3 separate regions of the Homo sapiens genome follow, and all the other regions are linked to region 1. Evidence: fine-mapped QTL for protein levels in blood plasma. A gene starts in region 1. Each other region holds a variant in brackets. All regions are shown on one strand. Distances are from middle to middle.

What was found. PIP is the chance, under the fine-mapping model, that this variant and not a neighbour inherited with it causes the effect. The UK Biobank Pharma Proteomics Project read protein levels with antibody pairs (Olink). The fine-mapping took linkage between variants from a reference panel, not from the people measured, so its PIPs are less certain.
Region 2: its variant is fine-mapped to the plasma level of the CDKN1A protein (UK Biobank, PIP 0.95).
Region 3: its variant is fine-mapped to the plasma level of the CDKN1A protein (UK Biobank, PIP above 0.99).

Annotation. Positions count from the first base shown.
Region 1 is chr6:36,674,008-36,682,194 of GRCh38, forward strand. CDKN1A (cyclin dependent kinase inhibitor 1A) reads left to right here and starts at 4,707. Exons shown (of 3, transcript NM_000389.5): 1 at 4,707-4,791. It overlaps PANDAR (promoter of CDKN1A antisense DNA damage activated RNA), which reads right to left and starts at 1,119. Exons shown (of 1, transcript NR_109836.1): 1 at 1-1,119. DINOL (damage induced long noncoding RNA) reads right to left here and starts at 4,552. Exons shown (of 1, transcript NR_144384.1): 1 at 3,602-4,552. It also overlaps the pseudogene LAP3P2. RefSeq lists enhancers at 2,219-2,308, 2,359-2,428, 2,408-3,607, 4,800-4,989, 5,001-5,588 and silencers at 4,520-4,749, 6,320-6,709.
Region 2 is chr6:36,752,321-36,760,507 of GRCh38, forward strand. It overlaps CPNE5 (copine 5), which reads right to left. Exons shown (of 21, transcript NM_020939.2): 13 at 3,925-3,978; 14 at 714-775. Among named protein-coding and RNA genes, the nearest start is that of RAB44, 59 kb to the left of the region's middle. RefSeq lists enhancers at 3,042-4,241, 6,927-7,116, 6,952-7,920. The variant A/ATG (reference allele first, on the strand shown) is at 3,191.
Region 3 is chr6:36,745,502-36,750,882 of GRCh38, forward strand. CPNE5 (copine 5) reads right to left here. Exons shown (of 21, transcript NM_020939.2): 15 at 2,720-2,766; 16 at 895-1,076; 17 at 1-14. Among named protein-coding and RNA genes, the nearest start is that of RAB44, 50 kb to the left of the region's middle. The variant C/T (reference allele first, on the strand shown) is at 1,380.

The DNA of each region.
Region 1 (8,187 bases):
CGTGGTGCTAGTTGGCCTCGGCAAAAAGGCAGCCAGAATCGACGAACAGGAAAACTGGCAGGAAGGCAAAGAAAACATCAGAGCTGCTGTTGCAGCAGGATGCAGGCAGATTCAAGACCTGGAGCTCTCTTCCGTGGAGGTGGATCCCTGTAGAGATGCTCAGGCTGCTGAGGAGGGCGCGGTGCTTGGTCTCTATGAATACGATGACCTAAAGCAAAAAAAGAAGATGGCTATGTCGGTGAAGCTCTATGGAACTGGGGATCAGGAGGCCTGGCAGAAAGGAGTCCTGTTTGCTTCTGGGCAGAACTTGGCATGATGGAGACGCCAGCCAGCGAGATGATGCCAACCAGATTTGCCGAAATTATTGAGAAGAATCTCAAAAGCGCTAGTAGTAAACCGAGTTTCATATCAGACCCAGGTCTTGGATTGAGGAACAGGCAATGGGATCATTCCTCAGTGTGGCCAAAGGATCTGACGAGCCCTCAGTCTTCTTGGAAATTCACTACATAGGCAGCCCCAATGCAGACAAACCACCCCTTGTTTGTTGGGAAAGGAATTACCTTTGACAGTGGTGGTATCTCCATCAAGGCTTCTGCAAATATGGACCTCATGAGGGCCGACATGGGAGGAGCTACAACTATATGCTCAGCCATTGTGTCTGCTGCAAATCTCAGTTTGCCCATTAATATTATAGGTCTGGCCCCTCTGTGAAAACATGCCCAGCGGCAAGGCCAACAAGCTGGGGGATGTTGTTAGAGCCAGGAACAGGAAGACCATCCAGGTTGGTAACACTGATGCTGAGGGGAGGCTCATACTGGCTGATGCGCTCTGTTACGTGCACACATTTAACCCGAAGGTCATCCTCAATGCCACCACCTTAACAGGTGTCATAGATGTAGCTTTGGGGTCAGGTGCCACTGGGGTCTTTACCAATTCATCCTGGCTCTGGAACAAGCTCTTCGAGGCCAGCATTGAAACAGGGGACCGTGTCTGGAGGATGCCTCTCTTCAAACATTGTACAAGACAGGTTGTAGATTGCCAGCTGGCTGATGTTAACAACATTGGAAAATATAGATCTGCGGGAGCATGTACATCTGCGGCATTCCTGAAAGAATTCGTGACTCATCCTAAGTGGGCACATTTAGACATAGCAGGTGTGATGACCAACAAAGATGAGGTTCCCTATCTATGGAAAGGCATGACCGGGAGGCCCACAAGGACTCTCATAGAGTTCTTACTTCGTTTCAGTCAAGACAATGCTTAGTTCAGATACTCAAAAATGTCTTCACTCTATCTTAAATTGGACAGTTGAAGTTAAAAGGTTTTTGAATGAATGGATGAAAATATTTTAAAGGAGGCAATTTATATTTAAAAATGTAGAACACAATGAAATTTTTATGCCTTGATTTTTTTTTCATTTTACACAAAGATTTATATATTTTTTTTTTGAGACGGAGTCTCACTCTGTCACCCAGGCTGGAGTGCAGGTGGCATGATCTCAGCTCACTGCAACCTCCGCCTCCTAGGTTCAAGCGATTCTCCCACCTCAGCCACCTGAATACCTGGGACTACAGGTGCCCACCACCATGCCCGGCTGATTTTTGTATTTTTAATGGAGACGGGGTTTCACCATATTGGCCAGGCTGGTCTCAAAACTCCTGACCCTGTGATCTGCCCGCCTCGGCCTCCCAAAGTGCTGGGATTACAGGCGTAAGCCACCACGCCCGGCCAGTATATATTTTTAATTGAGAAGCAAAATTGTACTTCAGATTTGTGATGCTAGGAACATGAGCAAACTGAAAATTACTAACCACTTGTCAGAAACAATAAATCCAACTTTTTGTGCAAAAAAAAAAATACAAATATTAGCTGGGCATGGTGGTGCATGCCTGTAATCCCAGCTACTCGGGAGGCTGAGGCAGAATTGCTTGAACCTGGGAGGCGGAGACTGCAGTGAGCTGAGATTGTGCCACTGCTGACTTTGTCTCAAAAAACAAAACAAAACAAAAAAACAAAATGAAAACAAAAAGCCAGGGCTGCCTCTGCTCAATAATGTTCTATCTTTGTTCCGCCTCTTCTCTGGGGTCTCACTTCTTGGGAGCCTGTGTGAAGGTGAATTCCTCTGAAAGCTGACTGCCCCTATTTGGGACTCCCCAGTCTCTTTCTGAGAAATGGTGACATTGTTCCCAGCACTTCCTCTCCCTTCCTAGGCAGCTTCTGCAGCCACCACTGAGCCTTCCTCACATCCTCCTTCTTCAGGCTTGGGCTTTCCACCTTTCACCATTCCCCTACCCCATGCTGCTCCACCGCACTCTGGGGAGGGGGCTGGACTGGGCACTCTTGTCCCCCAGGCTGAGCCTCCCTCCATCCCTATGCTGCCTGCTTCCCAGGAACATGCTTGGGCAGCAGGCTGTGGCTCTGATTGGCTTTCTGGCCGTCAGGAACATGTCCCAACATGTTGAGCTCTGGCATAGAAGAGGCTGGTGGCTATTTTGTCCTTGGGCTGCCTGTTTTCAGGTGAGGAAGGGGATGGTAGGAGACAGGAGACCTCTAAAGACCCCAGGTAAACCTTAGCCTGTTACTCTGAACAGGGTATGTGATCTGCCAGCAGATCCTTGCGACAGGGCTGGGATCTGATGCATGTGTGCTTGTGTGAGTGTGTGCTGGGAGTCAGATTCTGTGTGTGACTTTTAACAGCCTGCTCCCTTGCCTTTTTCAGGGCAGAAGTCCTCCCTTAGAGTGTGTCTGGGTACACATTCAAGTGCATGGTTGCAAACTTTTTTTTTTAAAGCACTGAATAGTACTAGACACTTAGTAGGTACTTAAGAAATATTGAATGTCGTGGTGGTGGTGAGCTAGAAGTTATAAAAAAAATTCTTTCCCAAAAACAACAACAAAAAGAATTATTTCATTGTGAAGCTCAGTACCACAAAAATTTAAATAATTCATTACAAGCCTTTATTAAAAAAAATTTTCTCCCCAAAGTAAACAGACAGACAATGTCTAGTCTATTTGAAATGCCTGAAAGCAGAGGGGCTTCAAGGCAGTGGGAGAAGGTGCCTGTCCTCTGCTGGACATTTGACAACCAGCCCTTTGGATGGTTTGGATGTATAGGAGCGAAGGTGCAGACAGCAGTGGGGCTTAGAGTGGGGTCCTGAGGCTGTGCCGTGGCCTTTCTGGGGTTTAGCCACAATCCTGGCCTGACTCCAGGGCGAGGCAGGCCAAGGGGGTCTGCTACTGTGTCCTCCCACCCCTACCTGGGCTCCCATCCCCACAGCAGAGGAGAAAGAAGCCTGTCCTCCCCGAGGTCAGCTGCGTTAGAGGAAGAAGACTGGGCATGTCTGGGCAGAGATTTCCAGACTCTGAGCAGCCTGAGATGTCAGTAATTGTAGCTGCTCCAAGCCTGGGTTCTGTTTTTTAGTGGGATTTCTGTTCAGATGAACAATCCATCCTCTGCAATTTTTTAAAAGCAAAACTGCAAATGTTTCAGGCACAGAAAGGAGGCAAAGGTGAAGTCCAGGGGAGGTCAGGGGTGTGAGGTAGATGGGAGCGGATAGACACATCACTCATTTCTGTGTCTGTCAGAAGAACCAGTAGACACTTCCAGAATTGTCCTTTATTTATGTCATCTCCATAAACCATCTGCAAATGAGGGTTATTTGGCATTTTTGTCATTTTGGAGCCACAGAAATAAAGGATGACAAGCAGAGAGCCCCGGGCAGGAGGCAAAAGTCCTGTGTTCCAACTATAGTCATTTCTTTGCTGCATGATCTGAGTTAGGTCACCAGACTTCTCTGAGCCCCAGTTTCCCCAGCAGTGTATACGGGCTATGTGGGGAGTATTCAGGAGACAGACAACTCACTCGTCAAATCCTCCCCTTCCTGGCCAACAAAGCTGCTGCAACCACAGGGATTTCTTCTGTTCAGGTGAGTGTAGGGTGTAGGGAGATTGGTTCAATGTCCAATTCTTCTGTTTCCCTGGAGATCAGGTTGCCCTTTTTTGGTAGTCTCTCCAATTCCCTCCTTCCCGGAAGCATGTGACAATCAACAACTTTGTATACTTAAGTTCAGTGGACCTCAATTTCCTCATCTGTGAAATAAACGGGACTGAAAAATCATTCTGGCCTCAAGATGCTTTGTTGGGGTGTCTAGGTGCTCCAGGTGCTTCTGGGAGAGGTGACCTAGTGAGGGATCAGTGGGAATAGAGGTGATATTGTGGGGCTTTTCTGGAAATTGCAGAGAGGTGCATCGTTTTTATAATTTATGAATTTTTATGTATTAATGTCATCCTCCTGATCTTTTCAGCTGCATTGGGTAAATCCTTGCCTGCCAGAGTGGGTCAGCGGTGAGCCAGAAAGGGGGCTCATTCTAACAGTGCTGTGTCCTCCTGGAGAGTGCCAACTCATTCTCCAAGTAAAAAAAGCCAGATTTGTGGCTCACTTCGTGGGGAAATGTGTCCAGCGCACCAACGCAGGCGAGGGACTGGGGGAGGAGGGAAGTGCCCTCCTGCAGCACGCGAGGTTCCGGGACCGGCTGGCCTGCTGGAACTCGGCCAGGCTCAGCTGGCTCGGCGCTGGGCAGCCAGGAGCCTGGGCCCCGGGGAGGGCGGTCCCGGGCGGCGCGGTGGGCCGAGCGCGGGTCCCGCCTCCTTGAGGCGGGCCCGGGCGGGGCGGTTGTATATCAGGGCCGCGCTGAGCTGCGCCAGCTGAGGTGTGAGCAGCTGCCGAAGTCAGTTCCTTGTGGAGCCGGAGCTGGGCGCGGATTCGCCGAGGCACCGAGGCACTCAGAGGAGGTGAGAGAGCGGCGGCAGACAACAGGGGACCCCGGGCCGGCGGCCCAGAGCCGAGCCAAGCGTGCCCGCGTGTGTCCCTGCGTGTCCGCGAGGATGCGTGTTCGCGGGTGTGTGCTGCGTTCACAGGTGTTTCTGCGGCAGGTGAATGACGGGCGTGGGTCGGTGCGCGCTCGGCTTGCGCACACGGTGTCTCTAAGTGCGCGGGTGACGAGAGTCGGGATGTGCCGGAGACCCCGGGGCGGAGAGCGGGATTACAAGTACAGGAATCCCTGGTCACGCTCCCCGCCCCTGGAAACCCAGCTGGGGCGAGGGAGGGCGTGGACGGGACCGTTCTGGGAGCTCGCCTTTGGCTGCGGTTGGCTCCAGGCCCCAGGCGCAGTTTGCTCGCGGCGTGGGGATGAAGTCCGTGTCCCTGGAGGGGCCCAGGAAGGGCGAGGAAAGCGGAGTGGAGTAAGTTCGTCTAGGATCGGTCCCGGGTGGCTCTGGGATCCAATCTGCGCCGCCCTGGCCCAGGTCCCAGGTTCAGGTCCTTTACGCCACTGTGTCCACCACCTGGCTGAGCGCTGAGGTCAGCGCGGGCTGTTTCCTGGCCCTTGGGAATGTGCCAGGACCCGTCCCCTAAGGACTAGCGAGGAGGTGACTCACTGTGACAAGGAGACCCCAGGGAACGGACTGTATGAGGTCAGAACCCCGCCCGGGATGGGGTACAGCGGGACTCCAGAAGCCCTCTCCCCTGCCCCTTCGCGGTCTCCGTCCTCCCATCGGCACAGTGACCTATTTGGCTGGAACAGTTTGTTCCCAAGGAAGCCGGGCACTGGAGGTCCGGGACACCGCGTCGGGTCCCCGCTCCGCGGCGCGCTGTAGGGGTCGGGGAGTCACGGCCCTGCTCTGGGCGGGCTCTAACCAGCCTGTCAGTCGGGGAAGGGCAAGGGTCTCCTCTACCTCTTTCCCACCGCGGCCGGGAGAATCGCGGCCCAGCCTGTCCTCGGGTCGGGGCGCTGGACTCCGGGGCGGGAGCGGAGCCCACGCCTGGATGGGAGGCGGGGAGGGTTCATGTCTTTGAGGGGTGGGGGGTCTGGGGGGCACGACGCTGCTCAGGGCCTCTATCAGCTGCCTCGGGGGCTCAGGGCTTCCCGACCTAGCCCAGATTCCCTCTCCGAAAGCTACAGGGCTGAGCGGAGCAGGGGGGCGAGTCGCCCCCTGGGGCGCCGCCGCCTGGCGCGGACCACAGCGCGTCCTCTCCGTCCCAAACCCCTGGGGGACACTTGCGCCCTCTTCGTGAGGAAAAGCATCTTGGAGCTGGGTTAGGAACTTGGGGCGCCCAGGCAGCTTCCCCTCTCCTTGCCTCCCTCCACGTCGCGTTTCTGGGAGGACTTGCGAGCGGTTTTGTTTTCGTTGCTCCCGTCTATTTTTATTTTCCAGGGATCTGACTCATCCCGTGCTTTGGGCGTGGAGATAAGGTGGAGGGGCCGGCTCCCGGCGCGCGCGCGCGTGCGTGTCTGCGCGGGCGTGTGTGTGTGTGTGTGTGTGTGTGTGTGTGTGTGTGTCTGTGTCAGAGACGGCACAAGAGCGCGCGGTTTCCCAACAGCGGCGGGAGTTTCGGAAGCCTGGCCGGCTCAGCGTGACGTGTTCGCGGCCCCCCGGTCCCCTCCCATTCTCCCCCTCCCCACCCCAGGGTGACGCGCAGCCGGAGTGGAAGCAGTTTTGGCGGGCGAGCAGCGCCTTGCAGGAAACTGACTCATCACTACTCCCTCCAGCGGTCCGAGGCTCTGCCCACGCACCTCCCACTCCGCGCGTGATTTCCTGGAGGCCGGCGCCCCCTCCCGGCCCTGGCGGGAATAGCACACAGGCTTTCCCGCGGAGTGGGGCTGGCCGGCGCGAACCGCCGCGGCTACTCCTGGGCTCATCCGAGATCAACCCCTATGCCATTACCACCCCTTCAAAGGAGCACTCCTTAGGTTCAACAGTATTCACTGAGCTCTTACTGGAAATTAAAATATGGCTGAAGTCTAAGGCAGGAAGGCCAATAAAGGAGGCTATTTTTAATTGTTTCTAAAACAAGGGTTTGCGTTTCTGAGTTTTCTTTGGGCTGAAAGTTATTATGAGCATGAGAGCAGATTTTGATGGGGGAGGAGAGGCCTATGAGAGCCATAAGAGAAGGAGGGGTGGTAGAAGAGGAGAGGGTGCCTGCCTAGATCCTAGTCCTGTCTTGAACTCCCGAGAGCCAGGGAATATCCAGCACCTTGATGAAGCCCTAGGCGGGCGCCTCCTCCTTGTGCCTATGATGTATTGAGACCCAGAATGTCCATTTCAAACATACCAGTGTGTCTCCGCTTGGCTGGCAACCCAAGAGTGCCCATCTGAGGAATTGTGCCAAACACTTGCTTGAATCTTCAATCTGGATTAAGTTGGTCTCGGGAGGCAGGGCCTCAGCAATCTATATTTTGAAAAAACTCCCTAGGTGCTTTTCTTTCTTTCTTTTTTTCTTTCTTTCTTTCTTTCTTTCTTTCTTTCTTTCTTTCTTTCTTTCTTTCTTTTTCTTTCTTTCTTTCTTTTTCTTTCTTTTCTTTCTTTCTTTCTTTCTTTCTTTCTTTCTTTCTTTCTTTCTTCCTTTCTCTTTCTCTCTTTCTTTCTCTTTCTCTCTTTCTTTCTTTTCTTTCGACAGAGTTGCACTCTGTCACCCAGGCTGGAGTGCAATGGCACCATCCTGGACTCAAGTAGTCCTCCTGTTTCAGCCTCCCAAGTAACCGGGACCACAGGCGTGATCCCCCCGCCCCCATGCCCAGATTTTTTTTTTTTTTTTTTTTTTTTTGAGATGCGGTCTCGCTCTGTCACCCAGGCTGGAGTGCAGTGGCGTGATCTCGGCTCACTGCAAGCTCCGCCTCCCGGGTTCACGCCATTCTCCTGCCTCAGCCTCCCGAGTAGCTGGGACTACAGGTGCTGCCATCATGCCCGGCTAATTTTTTTTTGTATTTTTAGTAGAGACGGGGTTTCACCGTGTTAGCCAGGATGGTCTCAATCTCCTGACCTCGTGCTCCGCCCTCCTCGGCCTCCCAAAGTGCTGGGATTACAGGTGTGAGACACTGCACCCAACCACCCAGCTAATTTTTATTTATTTTTATTTTTAGTAGAGACAGGGTCTCAGCTAGTTGCCCAGGCTAGTCTTGGACCCTTGGGCTCAAATGATTCTCCCACCTCTGCCTCCCAGAGTATTAGGATTACAGGCATAAGCCACTGCCCCTGGCCTCCCCAAGTGATTGTGATGGGCCTCTCTGGTTAAGAAACCTCAAAATTAGAGAGGGAGTGGGGTTCAATACTACAGCACAGGACTCAGGGCAAACAGGCCTGGGTTCAGATCCTGGCTGTGCCACTTATGAACTGTGTGATGTTAGGCAA
Region 2 (8,187 bases), 78 kb after region 1:
CTTTCCGTGAGCTGCTGGCTGGGGCCTCCTGGCTCCCCCATCTGTCTGGGCCTAGACACTGTGCCTGGTGGTTCTTTCTGCTCCTTAAACTCATGTTTGACCACCTGCTGGCCCCAGGACCAATCCCTGGCTTATCCCCAATCCCGCTGCCCTTACAGGGCCCTAATAACAGTGAGCAGGTTAATCACTGTCCCCCTCCCCCAACCAGACAGATCAGAGGTGTCAGAAGCTCAGAGCTGTAAGGAACCTTAACACTTACCTATTCCGTTCTCTTTGTGTACAGAGGAGGAAACTGATACCCTGAGAGGAAAAATGACTCACCCAAAGGAACCCAGCAAATTAATGGCAAAGAGAGGCCTAGAGCCTGGGCCTCCTGACTCCTATTGCAGGGTTCTTTCTACATCCCCAAGCCCTTGGCTTTCTGTCACGGAGTCCCTACCAGCTCCAGGTCCTGTCTCTGCATGGAGACCTGACATGACCCAGGCCAGCCTCCTTGGCTCAGGAGTTCCCTCCAAGCTGCTTGGGATCTGGGGATGTGCAGGGCTCTGGATGAGTTGTCTCAGCCCAAACACCAGGGTTTGCTCAGAGCCCAGCACCACAGCCTTCAACCAGGGCTTTGAAGAGGCCAGGGTGGGGCCAGAGCCGGTCCTGTCGGTGTGTGGGGCCCTTTCCCTCTCCCCAAGGCCCATGAAATTGGCTGTATCTCTTCTCACCCTCCTTTGATGTAGTCAAGGAAGGTGCACTCTGACTCCACAGCAAAGGAAAGCAGGGTGACCTTCAAAACAAAAGGGAGCTTGGTCAGTGGGGAGCCTGGGGTCAGGGGAGATGGGTTATGATTCGAGAGCTGACATTGACAGAACACTCGGCATGTGCCAGTTTTGCATGCATGACTGCATGCACTGCCCACACCACCCCATGAAGTACTATTATTATCCCCACTTTATAGCCAAGGAAACTGAAACCCAAAGAGGTGGTGCAATGTGCCCAAGGACACTGCCAGGGCAGAGAAGGGATCTGAAACCAGGGTGTGTCTGACTTCAGAGCCTGCACTCTTGACCTTGACGGAAGGGTCCCATCTGTGTCAGTGGAACCGGGGTCCAAGCCAAGGGTGTTAGTTTCCTCTAAGTGGGCACTGGCTCTTCAGCCCCAGGGACCTAGGGTGGGGTGTGGAGGACAAGGGGGCCCTCCTGGCACAGGCCTAACAACCTGCCAATGCCGACCAGCTTCAGGCTTCCATGTGCCTAGAGCTATTAGTCCTGAAATGTGCCTCTTTGGACTGTGCTTATCTTAAATCTTACTGGTCCCATCTCATCCCTCTCAGACCCAAGATCCTGCCTCATAAGTAGCCCATCCTTTTCCCCAGAGGTAACTGACTACCCCAGGCCCCCTCCCCCAAGCAGAGGCCTTTTAACCTATGCCCTGGCAAAGTTAGCTTTGGCTTTGCCAAGACAGGCAGCTACCTGGCAGCTCATTATCATAACAATTTAGAATCAAGGAGACAAATGAAAGCCTGGCATCCTAGGCCAATTATATGAGACAAGATTAGGGCAGAGGACCTTTCACCTGTGTAAGAGAACGAACTCCTCTCTGGTAGTTTGGGAGCCCCCTATTCATGAAGATTCAGCTGTTTTTACAGGCTCATTGGGAGGGCCAGGTGAGAGCACCACCCTTACTTGGCAGTAAGACCCCCAGCTATTGTGGTTAAGGTATTAGGCACCTGGATGAACCACAGGCCTCCTTCCAAGTGTGGCAGCTCAGACTTACTAGGAACCACGGCAGTGGCTTCAACCCTGACTGATGACCATGAGATGCCCTGGGGGCTCTTAGATCATCCTGCAGCCCAGACCCATTATAGCCGAGTTTCCGGGGCTACATGAATGTTTCAGAGATCTTCTTTTTTTTTTTTTTTTTTAGCTCTTCACGTAAGTCTAATCTGCAGACACAGTTGACCACTCCCCATTCCAACCCCCAGGATGAAGCAATGCCCTAACTGCCCTGACCATATGGGTTCACCCAGGGGCTCGCAGGGTGAAAGCAGACTTTCCCCTATTCAAAGGGTAGTGTCCCTAGACCAGAGCGTCAGCATCACCTCGATGCCAGGTAGAAATGCAGAAATGCAGATTCTTGGCATTTTCACAAGATCCCCAGGGGATTCTGCACACCATAAGTAAGGGATGAAAAGCACTAAACACAGATTCCTGGGCCTCCTAAAGTGGAATCCCAGGGAACTGGCCTGGGCGTCTGTATTTCAGCAAGCTTTCTGCATCCCGGGTGATTTTTCGCGATGAAGATGGGGAAATGCTGGAGTAAAAGGAAAGTCAAGAGACCTGGGCCTAGGCCCGCTCTGTCTCCAGCTCACTGTGTGACCTGGGACAAATCGCATGCCCTCTCTAGGCCACAGTTTCTTCGTCTCTAAAGTAAGAAGGCTGGATGAGATCAGTGGTTTTTGAACCTTTTTATTCCCAGCTGGGGAAGGTGCTGTCTTCCCTAGGGGAATTTAGGAAGGCGTGGGAGAATTTTGGGGGTTCTCATAATGACTGGGGCTCTACTGGTAGCTATGGGCAGCAGCCAGGGGTGCTAAACATCCTGTGAGATGAAGAATTTTCCTGCCCAAATGCTGACAGCCTCTCCACTAAGAAACACCGCAGCCTTGGACAAAGGAAATATGACTCCAAGCCCCAGTCTGTGAAGCAGTTACAATCAAAGAAGTGGTGTTCAGTCCCCTTTGAATGAGCAGAGTAATTTTACAGTTCACAAGCCTGCATCTCCCATGTGTCTGTCACAGCTGCCCTGTGCAGTGGCAAGGTGGGGATGATTTATTAGTCCTACTTTACAGACGGAGAAAATGAGGCTTCTCAGAGGAACCCCAGAGCTCCTGAAAACCTCTTCTAGGTCTGGAGATACAGTCTGCCTGACTCAAATGACCAGGCTTGGCTGCACTAGCCATGGGCCTCTAGAGTGAGGAAGGAACACAGAGAGGATGAATCTGGGTGTGTTTGCACTGCAGAGAAAGTGGCTTGTTCTAGAAATGCACTGTGAGCTCCACCTCAGGGCCTTTGCATGTGCTGTTCTCTACAGCAGGAATGCTGGAATTCCCTTTCCCCAGTATCCTCAATACTTCCTCCATTGCCTGTCCCTTTACCCTTTATACTTTTTCCATAGCTCTCATAATCAACTGACACACACAGGC[A/ATG]TGTGTGTGTGTGTGTGTGTGTTTTTTTTTTTTCTCTGTCTCCTCCCACTAGAATATAAGCACCAGGGATTTGGGTCTGTCTTGTTTCCAGCTGTATCTGATGTGCCTAGAATAGTGCCTGGCACACAGTAGCACTCAGTAAGTATTTGCTGAAGAAGCGTATGAATGTCCTCAAGACCAGCCCCGAGAAGCCACTAGGCCGGCGTGTCATCCCAGGAAGGTCACGGTTAAGCAGGGGCAGCGCCCGTAGCAGCTGCCAGCTCTGGAGTGAGATGTCATGTTGAGTCCCATCTCTACCACTTTCTAGCTGTGTGACCTTGGCTGAGTCACTTTCCTGCTTGCAGCCTTGGTTTCCTCTTTCATGACTAGGGGATGATAATATCTGCCTCTCAGGGCAACAACCTGTGAAAAGCACCAACGTGGGGAATTTCCCAGGGTAGGGGCCCAATAAATACGACTTCTCTTCCTCTTCCTTCCTGCAGGAAGTCCCGTGGATGTCTCTGCGATTCCTCATGCTAGATACAGCCAGCGCCTGTTGTGTGGTCTGCAAGTCAACTCTCTCCCCTGGCTGTTGCTCCATCTGCCCCACCCCTCCCCACCCCATCTCTCTTGGATGTCTGATTCCCACGCTCAGCCCCTGCACACACACAGACGCACGGGCCTCCCTGATACCAGACCTAGCTTGGGGCTCAGAATGTCTACACCCGGCTGCAGAGACCGGGGTGGCTACTCACTGTGCCAGAATTCACGTATTTCTTTTTCTTCATTTTCTTTTTCGGGTTTACCACCTGCAGGAAAAACCAGTTACCAGGTAAGGCATGCTTCCAGGCAGTCAGGGTGAGTCTTGAGGGCTTCCAACCACCCATGGGTGTGGTCCAAGCCCAGCCCCATTAGAGTGTGGGGTGTGAAGACCACGGGGCCAGGGGAGAAGGGTTTAAGGAGGATTTGTGGGAGACTGGTATTGAGTCTGGGTTACACAACTGGGTTCTCCCATCAGACCCAGGGTCCCACGATCAACCGGGAATATTTATTTAACCTTCTCTCCCACTGTTCCCCGGAACACACGCACCCTCCACCCAGTATAGCCAAAGAAGTCTTGATGTTGCAAAGCGGCCCTATCTGTACCTGTCCCTTGTGTTGGTTGAGGCTGCTCCCCTCACCAAAAATGCACCCCCTTCCTCTCTCAGCCAATTCCAATCTCCCCTGTTCCTCCTTTGGGACCCAGCCCAAGGGCTGCCCAGGGCCTCTGAGGCTCCCCTCTCCATCACCATCCCTCTTACTTGGCAGCAAGAACCTCTTTAGCTATTCTTTGAGTGTAAGCTTTAACTTCCAAACCAGACCTGTGTCAGATAAATCATGGGGCTAGGCTCAGAGTAGGTGCTCAGAGAAGGCTTGTTGGTGGCTAACTCAGCGGTCTCAACCAGGGGCGATTTTACCCCCAGGAACGTTTGGTAACATCTGGAGACGGTTTTGGTTTCCACAACTGAGGGGGTGAGTAGAGGCCAGGCATGCTGCTAAACATCCTACAGTACACAAGACAGCCTCCCACGGCAGGGAGTGATGCAGTCCCAAATCCCAGTAGTGCCAAGGCCAAGACTGGGCAAAGTGACGAGAGCCACCCAGCCCTGAGGCCCCCCACGAGACTTCCGCACTTACTGTATTTGTATTCTCATTTGACCCTCGCCAGTTTTTCTTTGTTTTGTTTTTAATAAGGGAAGTCTAGGCACAACTTTTCCCTAATGTCCCATCAAACAAAGCCAGGCAATTTTCATACCTCCTGTGCTGCCTGTTGGTTTCTGGTGAACTCATTTCCCCTTTCCCTGTCTTTGTTCCCACAGAGGCCGTCAGCTGATCTTTACCGTGGTCTCTTCTGTCTGGGTGAGTATTGCTATCTACTTCCAGCAAGAAGGAAACTAAAGCACAGCGACACCAGGTGATTTGCCTAAAGTCACACAGCCATCTGGGTAGTGACAGGATTAGAAACCAGGTTTCCTGCCCCCGGGCCAGTGGTGCATACATTGGTGCCACCTTGATAACAGATACAAACAGATCTCTTTGACATACATTTATGGGGTGGGTGGAGACATATATTGCTTCTCCCCTGGAATCATCTATCACCTATGTTGGAGAGAGAAGATATGTCCTCAGGGCAAAAAGTGACAAGGGCCATGGAACAAGGGGGATCACAGAAGTGTCAGGGGAGTTAGAGGAAGGAAAGACCACTCTAGGTGAGAGTGTCAGCAAAGCCTCTCTGGAGCAGGAAGTCTTGAAGGCAGACTTAGAGGCACAGGAAGGCTCTGGGCACGGAGAGATGGATGTCAGAGGAGGTTCTGTGGGAGAAATGAATAGAACCCAGGCCCAGTTTGATGGCAGAACCACAGGGTGGAAGAGTAAGCTGGGCTGGTTGGAGGAGAGCCTAGAATGCCCAGTGAAAAATGTCTGAATGTCACCCAGCGGCCTGCAGGGAACTCTGATGACCCCCAAGCTGGTAGGAGACAAAATCAGAGCAGGCTCTAGGACACTGGGGCCTGGTGGAGGTGAGTGTGAGGGGAGGAGGAGGCTCATCCAGGAAATATTTGCCTAGTTCTGCCACCTAATAATAGCTGTGTGACCTTAGGCAGGTTACTTAACCTCAATGTGCCTCAGTCTCCTCATCTCTAAAATGGGAATAAGAAGTACCTGCCTCCCGGAAAGGTATGAGGATTAAATGGGCCAATGCAAGCAAAGTGCCTAGAACAGTTTGGAATGTAGTAAGTATTATCTATACGTGTCTGTTGCTTTTTTCTAAGACGGGGTCTTGCTCTATGGCCCAGGCTGGAGTGCAGTGGTGGGGTCATAGCTCACTGTGGCCTCAACCTCCCGGGCTCAAGCAATCCTTCCAGGTAGCTGCCACCATGTCTGGCTATTTTTTTTTTTTTGGTAGAGATAGGATCTCGCTATGTTACTCTGGCTGGTCTCAAACTCTTGGGCTCAAGCAATCCTCCTGCCTCAGTCTCCCAGAGTGTTGGGATTACAGGCGTGAGCCACTGCACCCAGCCTTAGTTGCTATTTTTCAAAATTACTACTACTATTATTACTGCCACCATAAGTCCATGCGAGAGGTCATGAGGACTTGGGGGTATTGGGACAGGTGCTGAGCTATGGTGAGAACAGCGCTGTCAAGAAGTGACCACGCCTCTTGGGCCCTGGGCGTGGCTATAGAGGTTCGAGAGAGGGAGGGGTTGGGGTGACCAGGTAGACACAGAAGGAAGGCGCTGGATTTGGGGCACAGGTGGGAAGTTCACGTGGGAGGTCTGGCAAGCTGTGCAGGTAGAAACTGAGGGCCTGGGCGAGATGGTGAGAGAGCCCGGGAGAGAAGACCAGAGCACCCTCTTTAGCACTGGAGGACGCCCCCTCCACGGGGTTACCCAGATGGTGAGGTGCTCACGGACACATTCATGGGAAAACAGCTTAAGTAGGCAAGCTGTTAAGATGAGGGCAAAATGGCAGCCCCAGTGCTGCACTGTGCCTCAGTTTCCCAATCTCTCCCTTGAGGGTGTTGAACTATCGGAATGGACAGCATCTCAAACTTTTGCTCCAACATAGCCCTCCCAGCTGGGGAGAATGAACCCGGAGTCCTGAGAGTAACCAAAGATTTGGCCACAAGCATGTTTCTTCTAAGCTTTCTATGTTATCTTTAAATTAGCCTGTATTCCACATTTCCACTCTCTGATATAACTGCTTTAATGTTAAAGCAATGTTCTGTTCTCAGATCCCTGTTTACCCTGAGGTTTCATGCTCCCAGCCTCAGCCTCTCCAGCCCCGCCACGGTGAATCCCATGCAGGGGGCCAGCGCCACCTAGGGGCCAGCCGAGGAGCTGCCCCTCCACTAAGTCACCTCCCTTCTTCTTGGTGGTCAGGCGGGGACAGGACAGGTCTGGAATCTGCCCTCCTGCGCACATTAGGTGGGGTGGGTGGGGGCACTGAGGGGCTCCTAGGGGCCAGGAGCTGTGCTGGCTCTGGGGATGCAGCAGTAAGTGCAACACAACCCCCACCCTGAGGACTTCAAGGTCTTTGAGGGGTTGAATAGTGTCACAAAACAGAAAATAGCCAGAAGGAACCCCAGGAGCACTGACAAGTGTCCACTCCAGGCTCTGGGGTGGGGCGGGTGTGCAGGTGGACACAACTTCCTGGAGGAGGAACACCCACAGGGAGGCTCCGTGGACCAATAGCTCCTACCCAGGAGAAGACAAGAGGGAGTCTCAGGTGGAGGCACCCATATGAATCGAGCCCTGGAGGCTGAGACAGCACGGAGGTTCAGAGAGCCTCAGGTGGCAGGACGGGGATGAATGTGGGAATGGGCAGAGGGAAGGGGCAGGGGCCAGCTCCTAGGGGCCTCCAAAGGCATGTGATGTGTGTTTTTATTTACATGCACAGCCAGGCGTGGTGGCTCACACCTGAAATCCCAGCACTTTGCAAGGCCGAGGCGGGTGCATCACCTGAGCTCAGGAGTTGGAGGCCAGACTGGGCAACATGGCAAAAACCCATCTCTACCAAAAATGCAAAAAAAAAAAAAAATCGCCAGGGTGGTGGTGTGTGCCTGTGGTCCCAGCTACTTGGGAGACTGAGGTGGGAGGATAGCTAGAGCCTGGAAGTAGAGGTGGAGGTTGCAGTAAGCCGAGATTGTGCCACTGCACTCCAGCCTGGGTGAGAATGAGACTCCATCTTAAAAAAAAAAAAAAAGCACGCATACACAGATTGCGGGTGGCTGGCTGGGGAAACAGCATCCCAAATGAAAGAGCTTGGAACTTCACCCTGTAGGTCAGTGGATCTCAGCTGCGGTGGGAGCATCTTTCAGTATCTCTTCCCACCTCCCATGTGCGAACCAGGCTAAGGAGGTGGGTGGAATGCCCTACACAGATTTTAAGCAGGGGAGCGATGTGATCAGATCACTATTTTGGTGGAGTACGCTGGTTACTGTGTAGAGGACAGAAGGAAGAAAGGAGGCTGTGGCAAAG
Region 3 (5,381 bases), 70 kb after region 1:
TCCTGGTTGCCATTCTGGGGGACAGAGGGCAGGGAGGCTGAGCCCAGGAAGGAAGGACAGGGGTGCACGATGTGTGGGAACTGAGTCCAGGTGGGGAGGCCAGCAGGCCTGGGCTCCCCCAGGTCTTCTCTGGTGTGGGGTGGCGGGGCAGGGGAGGGAGCTCCCAGGGCCCATCCTGAAGCAGTGCATGCTTCAGGTGAGCTGGGTCCAAACCTGCTCCTTACCCGGCTCCCTGTACCTGTTCAGAGATGCCCCAAGATCCCTGGCTGCTTCCCTCAGGGAACCTTGGGTAAATCCACTCTGCCCTAAAATGACTGCTGGGTCTCAGCAACTCAGGAAGGACCTGTGGCTGATCTGTCCACGTGCACACTGGGCCCAGCACAGCACCTTGCACCCTCAGGCATGGGAGGGACGTCTGCTGTGCCTGAGTGTCCCCAGCTCGTGGGAGCCAGGGAAAGGGGTGGCCTGTGCAATCATCTCCACAGGGCCCGGGATGCCCAGATGACGCCATGCTCCACATCACCCTGGAGATCCACGTCATCCCATCTCAGCACTGACTCAGGGATACCCAACCCACACCACCTTGTTCACTTTTCTGGGGCCCTGAGGGATGGGTCAGCCACAGCTCGCCTCCACCTGCACCTGCGTCTTGTCAGGAACAAGGAAGCCAGGGCCAGCTGTGGGCAGGCAGCTTCAGACATGGAGGGGCAGCATCTGTGATCAGGGAAGGGAGTGGATTTCTGGAGCCCCCCTACACACAGCAGGCAGTCTACCTCCACTGAGGCTGAGCCTTAAGTCCCCGGGCTCAGAGGAAGGGAAACGTCCCCCCACCCCCAGCTTGTCACCTCACCCCCAGCCTGATCAGTCCTCTCTCCCACCAGCGGGACCACCTACCAGTGGGAACTCGTGGGACACTCTGCCATCCGGGGGCAGCTTGGCCCCGAAGCCCAGGGCAGGGAACATCTTGTCACTGTCGTAGTGCTGGATGATCTCTCCGACGGCAGTCAGCGCCAGCGCGTAGGCGTTCAGCTGGTAGGGGCTCATGTAGTGCAGGGATGTGGACTGTGAGGGGTTCCCTGTAACACAGGACATGGGAGCCTTTGACCATCTGGACCCTCCAAGTCACCCCGGGTTCAGAATGAAGAAGGGGGTGTCCAAGGGCACCCCTAACTTTTATTAATTCTTGACTCCTCTCTTTCTCTCATACCCCATGTTAAATCCTTCAGCAAAACAGATCTAGAATCCCTCCTCCGCCTCTCCTCCTCCCCATACCACCACCCTCTTGCTTATAGGATGCAGCAGTCTCCTAACTGATCTCCCACTTCCTTCTGCCCCTGTGCCTCCAGCCCATATCCAGCACAGCAGTGACTGAGCCTATC[C/T]GCCTCAGAGAGATCATGCCTCTCCTCTGCCCAAAACGCTCAATGCCTCCACCTCCCCCAAAATGAAACCCAAAGTCCTCACAAGAGCCCGCAAGCACTCATGATCTGGCCTCCAGGTCATCTCCTACCCTCCTCCCTGTCACTCGCCAGTCCCAGCCTCACCAGCCCCTCGCCATTCCCACCTCAGGACCTTGGTGATGGCTGTTCCCTCTACCTGGGACACTCTTCCCCAGATGTCCACTCCCTGGCCCGCTCCCTGGCCTCTTCAGGTCTCTGCTCAAGTGTCACCTCCTCAGTGTGATCTTTTCCAAGCAGCCTATTAAAAATTACAGCCTCCCCCAATCCTTCCTATCCTTCTTCCTGGCTTGATTTCCCCCCCCAGAGCCCTCTTCGCTGCCAATATAGTCTGTATTTAACTTATTTGTTCATTGATGGGAGGTAGTACAGCACAGATTGCCAAGGTACCAATCCTGTCTACCTCCTGCTAGTTATGTGATCTTGGGTAAGTTCCTTAACCTTAGCCTTAGTCTCTTCACCTGTAAAATCAGAGCAATAATAGTTCCTACTTCATAGGATTGATGTGAATATTACACAGATGCTATCGATATTATGATAACTATCCTCAGTGTTATTATTACTAAGGCCCCTTCCAGCTCTGATAGCCCAGTGCTCTATGATGCTAGGACTTACAGCTATAAGAGGAGCTCCTGACACCTGTAGAGGGCAAGACCTGGGCATTTTTGATTGGTGCAAAAATTAGCACTGAGCACCCCTAATAGAGCCCAGAGCCCAAGGGAGGTTGTGATGTTTCTAATCATGTAAAGTTGGGCACTGTTATTGCTCCTAGTGACTCAGCCACAGGCTGACACTGGAGAAATTGGGAGGAGGTAAGGAAGCCAGGGCAGCCCCAGCCAGGTAAGGACTGGGGTCCCTGGGCTGGATCCTGCCTCCCTGAACACCACAGAGCTCAGCCTTGGCTCTGATTCTCCACTCCAGCCTGTGGGTTGGACTGCACAGAGGAGCTGGGATTTGATCCCGGGGGGAAACATCTCCAGGGCCCTCCATAGGCCCAGAGTACACACAATCCCATTCCCCCAGGGAGACTGGGTGTTCCTCAAGGACAAGGCTGTGGCTCAGAGCCCAGATTTATGTCAATGGTCCAACCTGGGGATACTACTGCCATCTTGGTTGTATCTTTGGTCCTCCAGACCTAGGTACATCCTCTTTGGTGAGGAAGAGGCCAGAGAGTATGAGGGTCATGGTCCCAGCCAGGGCCAGATGCCACAGCCCTTAAAAGCTCTCTCCTCCCACCCTGCTCCTCTACCCATCCCCCAACTCACCATTGGAGGCAGTGAAATCAATGGCCACAGTGAAGTTGATCTGGGTCCTAGAAGAGGGAGAACAGCAGGGGAGTCACCTGGAGGGAGGCAGGGCTGTGGGAGGGGGGACAGTGCTAGACATTGGCTACCACCCTGGCTCTGCTGCTTGCCAGGTGTGTGGCCTTGGTGAAGTCATTCATCTCTTTCTAGTTCTGGAGAGCTGAGATAGTAATGCCAGCTATGCCCCCCTTACAGGATTAATGAGCATCAGAAGAGTTATGCAGTAGGAAAGCTCTTTGAAGATGATTGTGTTCTGTGTGGGCATGTGGCTATGGTCACTTATTTCCTCCACAAACCCTACCCCCTGGGCCCACCTGTGTAGGCTGGGTGAGGTTGGGTCTCATTGGATTGCTGACTCAAATTTGGAGTGAGATTCAGGACGAAAACTCATTTGACAAAAAAGAGAGTCAAATAGACATTATGCATCTCCTAAAGAAAGAATAGAATACCACCCATGAAGTTGTCTTACCAAAAAATTGAACCTGATTCTGATTGAGGCTCCAGAGCTGTCTAGTTAGTTACAGGAAATACAAGGGACAGAGGAACACATTAAATGACACCACAGGAGATGCAGCCAGCAAAATCCAGTCTTTGGGAAACTCTGTAGAAGCACTACCAGAGACAGCAGCAGCACCATCTCCTGGGAATATGCTGGGCCTCTCAGACTCTATCTAGCTCTCCTGAATCTTTTTTTGGAAAAGAGGTCTCGCTCTGTCACCCAGGCTGAAATGCAGTGGCGTGATCACAGCTCACTTCAGCCTCAACCTCCTGGGCTCAAGCAGTTTTCCCACCTCAGCCTCCTAAATAGCTGGGACCACAGGCACGCACCACCACACCTGGCTTTTTTTTTTCTTTTTGCAGAGATGGGGTCTCATTATATTGGCCAACCTGGTCTTGAACTCCTGGGCAAAAGTAATCCTCCTGCCTCAGCCTCCCAAAGTGCTGGGATTACAGGTGTGAGCCACCACATCTGGCTGAATATTAGATTCTCTTGGTGGGGTACAGGAATCTGTGTTAGCAAGCCATTCAGGTGCTTGGGGGGAATGAATAGATGAAAAGAGAATTAAGAGACCAACCCACCAATCACAGCCTATGGCTCTTGCCTGGATTTCTGACTCAAACAAACCAATTTTAAAACTATAAGATAATTGGGGAGATGTAAACATTTACTAGATATTTAGTATTAAGGAATTGTTAATTTTTTAGGTGTGGTTATGGTATTGTGGTTATGTTTGATAAAGAGAGAGTCCTTATGTTTTAGAAAGACATCCTAAAGCATTTGGGGATAAAATATGATGGCTGGGATTTGCTTCAAATTGGATATTGGGAGCCTGAGGTGGGAGGATTGATTGACACTAGGAGTTCAAGGCCAGCCTGAGCAACATAGTGAGACCTCAAAAATAAAAAAAAAAAACCCACTAAAATAAAAAATAATAATAAATGACTGAATGAAGGGTGGAGTGCATGAAACAAGACTGGCTATGATGTGGTAATGGCTGAAGCTGGGTGAAGGGTACTTGCATGTTGATTATACCTTTTCTCCACATTTGCATGTGTTTGACGTTTTCTATAATAAAAAGTTAGGTTTTGAGGATTCAGATTCAGGCTTGAGACTTTCTGAGGGCTTGGCCATTCTAGGTTCTCTGCCGGGTCCAGACAGAACAAAGCTGACAAACACAAGTCCCTGATAAAGTCTAGTCTTATGGTTCTCACACGGCAGTGAGCATAGAATCACTACGGGTGCTTGCTTAAGAAGATTCCAGGGCTCCACCCCAGAAATGCCAATTGAGTTTGTCTGGAGTGGCTCCCAGAATCTACCTCTTGAAAAAATGTCCACTGCCTTCATCCAGGGATTATGAGGACACGAGGCTGGGATAACGCTGGGGAAAACTCTGTTCTAGTAATTCTTAGTTGGGGCTATGGATGATGTAAGATCAGGTAGGCCTCACCTCACTTGCATTTAGCAGAAGGTGCCTATCAGAAACCACAGCTCTATCAGCCCAAGATCCCTGTCACAGACACAGCAGAAGGTCCCTATCAGAAACCACCTGATCACAGCTGAGCTGCTGCTCATGGAACCCTCACTCACCCCCAGGGAAATGTCAAGGACATGGTTAGCAGGAGACCCCAGCCAGGGTCTGCTGGCCACAGACAGTCATCCCCACCTCTTTCTCCTCTTCTGCTGGCTGGGGGCAGAGCATCCAGAGGATTCCAGGCAGTAGGATAGAAGGAGCCGCAAAGCTAGCAAGAACCTGGGTCCCTGAATGACTGCGTGGATCATCTCCCCACCCAACCCTGCCATCCCACAGATGAAAAACAGACCTTTATTGGTATGAAGGCTTGAGGTTAGGGAATTATGTGTTACAGCAGTTGACCTACCATACTCATCTGCTGTTTGTTGTCACCCCCGCTTCAGTGTGGAATGTAGAACGCATGTCTTTGTTAGAGGTAGGGAGACATTTGGAGGGTGAAAGTCCCGCTCCCAGGGCCACTCTTGGGAAGATGATTCTGGCCTGTGGGACTATACTGGAGGGACACTGTTGGACTGGCTCTTCCAAATACAGGGTGAGGGGAAAGGCAGGCCTTGCTCTAACTAGTCCTCCCCTGCCCTGGGTTCTGAAAA